Homo sapiens: one gene and its partner. The protein of the gene in region 2 interacts with the protein of the main gene of each other region in a biochemical or structural test. Each region holds a gene or a part of one and is shown on either strand. Other genes may lie near its edges.

Region 1 (3,744 bases), on a different chromosome or scaffold from region 2:
AGGGAGGGTGATGGGTGGAGCCCTGCAGGGGGGAGGGCTCTTTGCCGCTGGGTGCGGTGCTCACATCTGGATGACACGAGTGTGTGCGAGTCCGCCCGGAGCTCGAGGGGGCACCCAGCTGGACCAGGGCTTCCCCTGCAGGAGTCAGCCCCAGCTCAAAAGTCCTGGTGGGCAAAGCCACAGGCTGGATGTAGTGGGCAGGCTGGGGGCTCCGGGATGCCCTCTACTCGGGCTGGGTCCGGTCACTGGCCACGGACTCGCTGTTGGGGGCGGGCGTGAGGGTCTCCGCCTCATCCTCCACCGGGAGGTGGGGGCCGGCCGGCTCGGCCGCCTGCTCCAGGTCATCCTGCACCTCCATGCCCCTCTGGATGAGCTGCTCCAGGGTCTTGGGCAGGGGGTGGCGCAGGAAACGCTTGAGCTTGGGCTGCAGGGTGCCCACCACGTACTGGATGATCTCCTCCTCGTCCGCGTCCACGTAGAGCGTCTGGTACAGGTCCCGCTTGCGCCACAGGAACTGGTCCAGCGGCTCGCCCTGCTTCTGCGGCAGGTCCAGCTCGCGCTGGATGGCCTCTCGGGACAGCGTGCCCTCGCTGTACTGCAGGAACTCCTTCTTGAACTCCACCCAGTTCTTCACGGAGCCCTGCTTGAACTCCCACCACTTCTTGGCCGGCCCGTTCATGTGATTCTGGATCTGGGACAGCCAGTACTCCTCAGAGCCGCCCACCTGCCGCAAGTACTCCTCTAGGTGGCTCAGGAACTCTCGAGGGTCCTCGAAGATCTGCGTGTCCACGCCGGGGCTGGGCTGCCCGTCCTCGCCGGGGACCCACGGCTGGTACTGCTGGGCCTCGGCGGGCTCCTGCCCGGGCAGCTCGCCAGCGGCTGGGGGCGGGGTGATGGCGTAGGGGCTGACGGTGTAGTCGTAGCCGTCTGCCTCGTGGCAGTAGCTCTCGGGACCCCCCACGCCCACGGAAACGGTGTGGCGGGCTGACTCGCTGCCCACCGGGTACTTGCCGCCCGTGGACTCCAGGCGGTCGGCCCAGCGCTCCAGGCGGTAGAACACCTCGCGCCACACGTGCATCTCGCGCTTGACCCAGCGCTCCAGGTTGGCGATGGTCTCCTGGCAGCGGCACAGGCAGGCCTTGATGGACTTCTTCCAGCGCTGCGAGTCGCTCGTGGGCACGTAGCCGTCCAGGTTGCTCTCCAGCTTCCCGACCGACCGGTGCAGCCCCTTCAGCTCGCGCTCCACCTGCTTGGACACCTCGGCCAGCAGGTGCCGGTGCGTCCGCCGCACGTGCTCCAGCATCTCGGCCCGGCACTTCCCGATCTGCAGGATCACGTTGGGCTTGGCCACCTGCCCGCCCCGCGGCCCGGGGTAGGCGTGGAGCCCGCCGCTGGTCCGGTGGTCCAGCTCCATCTGTGCGCAGGTGCTCCGGCAGGCGGCAAACTCCTCGGGGCGGACAGAGGGTGGTCCGGCGCTGGGGTCCGGCGGCCTGGGTCCCGTGCGGAGCTGCGGGGAGCGCCTGTCTGTCGCTGCGGGCCGGCGGCGGGGCCGGCGGAGCACGCCCGGGGAGGCAGGTCCGGCTCGGCTGCTGCGGAGGGAGGACGCCGCGCCCGAGCTCTGCGCTGAGTCCTGGCCGCCGGCTCTTTATGCAGCCAGCGAGGCCCGTGGGCGGCCGGCTCGCCGAGCCCGGTTTCTCATTGGCCCAGCCGCAGGCTCCCCGCCAGCGCCCCGCCCGCGCCCCTGCAGGCCCCGCCCTGCGCCCACTCGGCTCCCGGGCGGCAAGGGACGGGAGGTCCCACCCCCTGCACACATGGCGGGGCCAGGATGACTAATCCCTCCGCTCCGTACCTCCCACCCCGGACGGCGGGGCTCATTCAGCCTGCGGGGACCGAGGGACTGAGCCGGGCACTGGGCGCCCCTCCCACGCCCCCTCCCGGGCGCTGGGCGGGCTGTCATCTGCTGCCTCCCAGGGTCCCAAGGTGGCCTTCCTCCTCTCCACTCGCCTCTCTCTTTGCGGGGCTGGAGGGGGCTGGCGCTGGCCACTGCTCTCCTGGGTCCTCACTGCCCCTGACCCCGCCCACCCAGCTCTGCAGGATGTGCAGCTGAGCCCGGGAAGGACCCTCACCATCAGCCTCTGTGCCCAGGGGCTCAGCAAGTCTCCATGTGAGCTCCCAGATGTGGCTTTGAGCTCCCACTCACTCCTGCCCGGGTCCTGAGTCCAGGTCTTGGGCTCTGTGTGAGGGACGCACAGCCAGGCAGAGGCTCGCTCTGCCTGGCCCTGGCGTTGGTGTGCATGGGTGACAGGGGCCCACGTGGCAGTGACTGGACAGGGCTGCCCCATGCCCCCATACGCAGGTCTCTGGTGAGGCCCAATACTTTTCTGTGTTTCCAGGGAAATCTGGCAGCTGCTACCTGGGGGGCTGGGGTTTGGAGGACATGGAGGGGACATTTAGCCCCCAGTGAAGGGAATTGGGCCCTGAAGACCCTGGCTATATCAAGAACCTGGCCAGAGGCTCCAAGACTTCTAAGGGGATGGAAGAGGGGAGGAGAGAGGGAGACAGGGAGGGAGGTGGAAGGAGGGAAAGGAGAAGGGGAGGGAGGAGAGGCGAGGAGGGAGAGGGAGGGGGGCCGGTGCTGGCAGCACAGTGCCATCAGGAGAGGCAGAGGGAAGCCAAGCACCATATAAGGAGCGGGGCTCCGGAAGCCGAGACTCCCTCGGGAGGGAGGTCCCTTCTGCCTCCCTGGCAACCTGGCGGGGGTAGGGACGCCCTTCCTGAGTTACTCCAGTGCTGGCTGGATAGGCATGGGTCTCAGGTCCTCTGATGTTACCCAGGCAGGGGTGACACACACCATTCCCCACAGCCAGAGGGCCATGAGGACATCATCGCTGACAATCAAGACATCTTGTTCCTGCTGCCAGCTGCCCTTTCCCTCTCTCAGACACACACATGCTGCACACTCACACCCCCACATACACACTCATAGCCCCCACTCTAACCCCACCCCACACACTCATGCCCTCACTCACAGCCCCCACACACACTCATACCCCCCACTCATAGCTCCCACATACACACTCATACCCCCCACTCATAGCTCCCACATACACACTCATACCCCCCACTCACAGCCCTCAGCTCCCCCCAGCATCCCCTGTCTTATTCAGGCACTCAAGGGCACACAGGTGCCCACTTGCTGGAATCCCCCCTCCCTGCCAACCCTCTGAGCCCCCCCCCAACCGGCTCTCCCGGGGAGCCCTCTCCCAGCCTCAGAGCCAGTCTGTCTCCTCCTTCCTTCCGCCCCTGGGGGGGAATGTCTTTCTGGCAAAAAAACTCCCCAAAAATGGCTCTCCTGGCATTTCTAATTAAAGGTAAGTGGGCGGACAGAGAAGGGAGGGCGGAGGGGCACCGCGGAGCTGGGAGGGGGAGCCAGGCAGAGAAGTCTCCAGCACAGGGACCTTCCCGCTTCTCCACTGCGGAATCCCAGGGAGAGGAGCTGGGTGGGCACATGCGGGACGGGCAGACGCCAGCAGCCTTGGGTGAGTGCAGCCAGCGGTCACCGAGGGCCACATGTCCGGGTTGGGGCCAGCCTGAGCCTGTAGGTGTTGTCTGGGTGCTGGGCACTGACCGTGCATGTGTGTCCATTGTGAGAGCCAGCACTTCAATGACCAGGGGCCAGCCCCGCCAGGGTTTACAAGCCCGTGTGGCCTCTGACGTCCCCGCCAGGGCACAGCTCTTAGGCCT
Region 2 (3,744 bases):
CTATTTAAATTTAATTAAAACAGGCCGGGTGCCGTGGCTCATGCCTGTAATCTCAGCACTTTGGGAGGCCGAGACATGTGGATCACCTGAGGTTGGGAGTTCGAGACCAGCCTGACCAACATGGAGAAACCCCGTCTCTAGTAAAAATACAAAATTAGCTGGGCGTGGTGGCACATGCCTGTAATCCCAGCTACTAGGGAGGCTGAGGCAGGAGAATCGCTTGAACCTGGGAGGTGGAGGTTGCGGTGAGCCGAGATCGCGCCACTGCACTCCAGCCTGGGCAACAAGAGCGAAACTCCGTCTCAAAAAAAAAAAAAAAAAAAACACCAGGCCAGGTGCAGTGGCTCATGCCTGTAATCCCAGCACTTTGGGAAGCCAAAGCAAGTGGATCACTTAAGATCAGAAGTTCAAAACCAGCCTGGCAAACACAGTGAAACCCGGTGTCTACTAAAAATACAAAAAGAATTAGCCGGGTGTGGTGGCGGGCACCTGTAGTCCCAGCTAGTCAGGGGGCTGAGGTAGGAGGATGGCTTGAGCCGGTGAGGTGGAGATTGCAGTGACCCAAGATCTCACCACTACACCCCAGCCGGGGCAACAGAATAAGACTCTGTCTCAAAAAATATATATATAAATAAATTTAATTAAAACTAAATAAAATTTAAAACTCAAAGGCTGTCACATAGCACTGGCCACATTTCTAGCATTCAAAAGTCACAGAGACTAGTGATTATTATATGGTACATTATGGATATAGACTATTTCCACCATCATGGAAAGTTCTATTGGACAGTGCTGGTCTCTTTTCCCACCCTCCCAGCCACCAAGGTTCTCGGGCACCCTTCCCCCTTCCCCCTCCTCCTCATCCCACCCCAGCCCTCCTCCAGGTACCTGCCAAGGCCTTGATCCGGGAGCACTCAAAGAGCGAGGCCGCTGCGGTGGACGCAGCCGGCTGCTCCCGCTCCCAGCCCCGATCCGGACTCTCCCAGCGGGCAGCAGGGTTGTTGTTAGGAGCAGGCAGGCCCTCCATGTTGTCCACTTCCCCTGGTACCTGCGCCATCGGGGAAGGTGAGGCCTGGACATAGGGAGAGGTAGGTTAGGTCTAGGATCAAGTCTCATTTCTAACAGTGACTGGCTTTGAGTCCTGTCCCCTCTCTTGTCCTCAATTTCTCTGTCTTTAAAGTGGACATAATAACAATGATAAGGCCTAGGCACAGTGGCTCATGCCTGTAATCCCAGCACTTTGGGAGGCAGAGGCAGGAGAATCGCTTGAGCCCAGGGGTTGGAGACCAGCCTGGGCAACATAGCAAGATTTCATCTCTATAAAAATAAAAATAAGCCAGGCGCAGTGGCTCAGGCCTATAATCCCAACACTTTGAGAGGCTGAGGAGGGCGGATTGCTTGAGCCCAGGAGTTCGAGACAAGCCTGGGCAACATGGTGAAACCCTGTCTCTACAAAAAAATACAAAAATTGGCCAGGCACGGTGGCTCACACCTATAATCCCAGCACTTTGGGAGGCAGAGGCGGGCGGATCACCTGAGGTTGGGAGTTCGAGATCAGCCTGACCAACATGGAGAACGCTGTCTCTAATAAAAATACAAAATTCTCCAGGCGAGGTGGAGTATGCCTGTAATCCCAGCTACTCGGGAGGCTGAGGCAGGAGAAGCGCTTGAACCCGGGAGGCGGAGGTTGTGGTGAGCCAAGATCATGCCATTGCACTCCAGCCTGGGCAACAAAAGCGAAACTCTGTCTCAAAAAAAAAAAAAAAAAAAAAATAGCTGGATGTGGTGGCAACGTGCCTGTAATCCCAGCTACTCAGGAGGCTGAGGTGTGAGGATGGCTTGAGCCTGTGAAGTGGAGGTTGCAGTGAGCCAAGATAGCGCCACTGCACTCCAGCCTGGGCAGCAGAGCCAGAAACTGTCTTTTAAAAAAATTTAAAAATTAGCCAAATGTGGTGGTTGCCACCCGTAGTCCCAGCTATTTAGGAGGCTGAGGCAGGAAGATGGCTTGAGCCCAAGAAGCCAAGGCTACAGTGATCTATAATAGTGACACTGCACTCCAAACTGGGCAATATGGCGATACCCTATTTCTAAATAATAATAATAATAATGTTCACCCTCACCACTTCACAGGATGTGATAAAACACATGGCTTAGCCCCTGGCACATATTAAGGGCTCAGCAAATTGTCACTGTTATTATTAGAACAATAGAGTTCTGTAATGCAGTAATAACAATAATGAACATATTGAACACTTGCACTGTGGTCAGTACTTCATGTACCTTCTCTTATTATTTCCACAAATTTAATTCCCTAACAGTTGGCTATTATTACACCTATTTTACAGAGGAGGAAACTGAGGCACAGAGGAGTTGATCTATTTTTCCAAGGTTACACAGCCAGTTAGTATCTAGGATTCAAACATAGATGATAGGGCCAGGCGCGGTGGCTCATGCATGTAATCCCAGCACTTTTTGGGGCTGAGATGGGTAGATCACCTGAGGTCAGGAGTTCAAGACCGGCCTGGCCAACATGGTGAAACCCTGTCTCTAAAAATACAAAAATTAGCTGGGCGTGGTGTCACACACTTGTAATCCCAGGTATTCAGGAGGCTGAGGCAGGAGAATCACTTGAACCTGGGAGGTGGAGGCTGCAGTGAGCCGAGATCATGCCAATGCACTCCAGCCTGGGAGACAGAGCAAGACTCCGTCTCAAAAAAAAAAAAGGTGATAGAATATTTGCATTAATGGGGCTGGGCACAGTGGGTCCTGCCTGTAATCCCAGCACTTTGGGAGGCCGAGGCAGGCGGATCACGAGGTGAGGAGTTCGAGACCAGCCTGGCCAACATGGTGAAACCCGGTCTCTACTGAAAATACAAAAATTAGCTGGGTGTGGTTTCGGGCTACTGTAATCTCAGCTACTCAGGAGGCTGAGGGAGGAGAATCGTTTGAACCCAGGAGGCGCAGGTTGCAATGAGCTGAGATTGTGCCACTGCACTCTATCCTGGGCGACAGAGTAAGACTCATTCTCAAGAAAAAAAGAAGAAGAAGAAGAAGAAAAATTTAAAGTGGAGGGGGCAGGCACAGTGGCTCATACCTGTAATCCCAGCACTTTGGGAGGCCAAGGCAGGCAGATCGCTTGAGGTCAGGAGTTCAAGACCAGCCCGGCCAACATGGTGAAACCCCATCTCTACTAAAAATACAAAAATGAGCTGGGCATGGTAGTGCATGCCTGCAATCCCAGCTACTCAGGAGGCTGAGGCAGGAGAATCGCTTGAACCTGGGAAGGCAGAGGTTGCAGTGAGCCAAGATGGCACCACTGCACTCCGGCTTGGGCAACAGGGCGAGACACCATCTCAAACAAAAATAAAAAAATAAAAATAGGCCGGGCACGGTGGCTCATGCCTGTTATCCTGGCACTTAGGGAGGCCAAGGCGGGTGGATTGCCTGAGCTCAGGGGTTCGAGACCAGTCTGGGCAACTTGGTGAAACTCCATCTCTACTAAAATACAAGAAATTAGCCAGGCATGGCATTGTGCACCTATAATCCCAGCTACTCAGGAGACTGAGACAGTAGAATCGCTTGAACCTGGGAGACAGAGGTTGCAGTGAGCTGAGATCGTGCCACTGCACTCCAGCCTGGGCGACAGAGTGAGACCCCATCTCAGAAAAAATAAAATTAAATTAAATGAAAATAAAAAAATAGAAAACAAAAAATTATTTAAAAAAAGAAGAAATTGGCCGGGCA

The links. The genes of interacting proteins can lie anywhere in the genome.
Region 1: the proteins of SPTBN4 (region 2) and ARC form a complex in vitro, tested with the Homo sapiens proteins (one study listed by BioGRID).

Annotation. Positions count from the first base shown.
Region 1 is NC_000008.11:142,612,858-142,616,601, forward strand, and holds the start of ARC (activity-regulated cytoskeleton-associated protein), read right to left. Parts: upstream 1,623-3,744; 5' UTR 1,415-1,622; coding exon 224-1,414; 3' UTR 1-223.
Region 2 is NC_000019.10:40,469,935-40,473,678, reverse strand, and holds part of SPTBN4 (spectrin beta chain, non-erythrocytic 4), read right to left. Parts: intron 1,073-3,744; 5' UTR 1,058-1,072; coding exon 889-1,057; intron 1-888.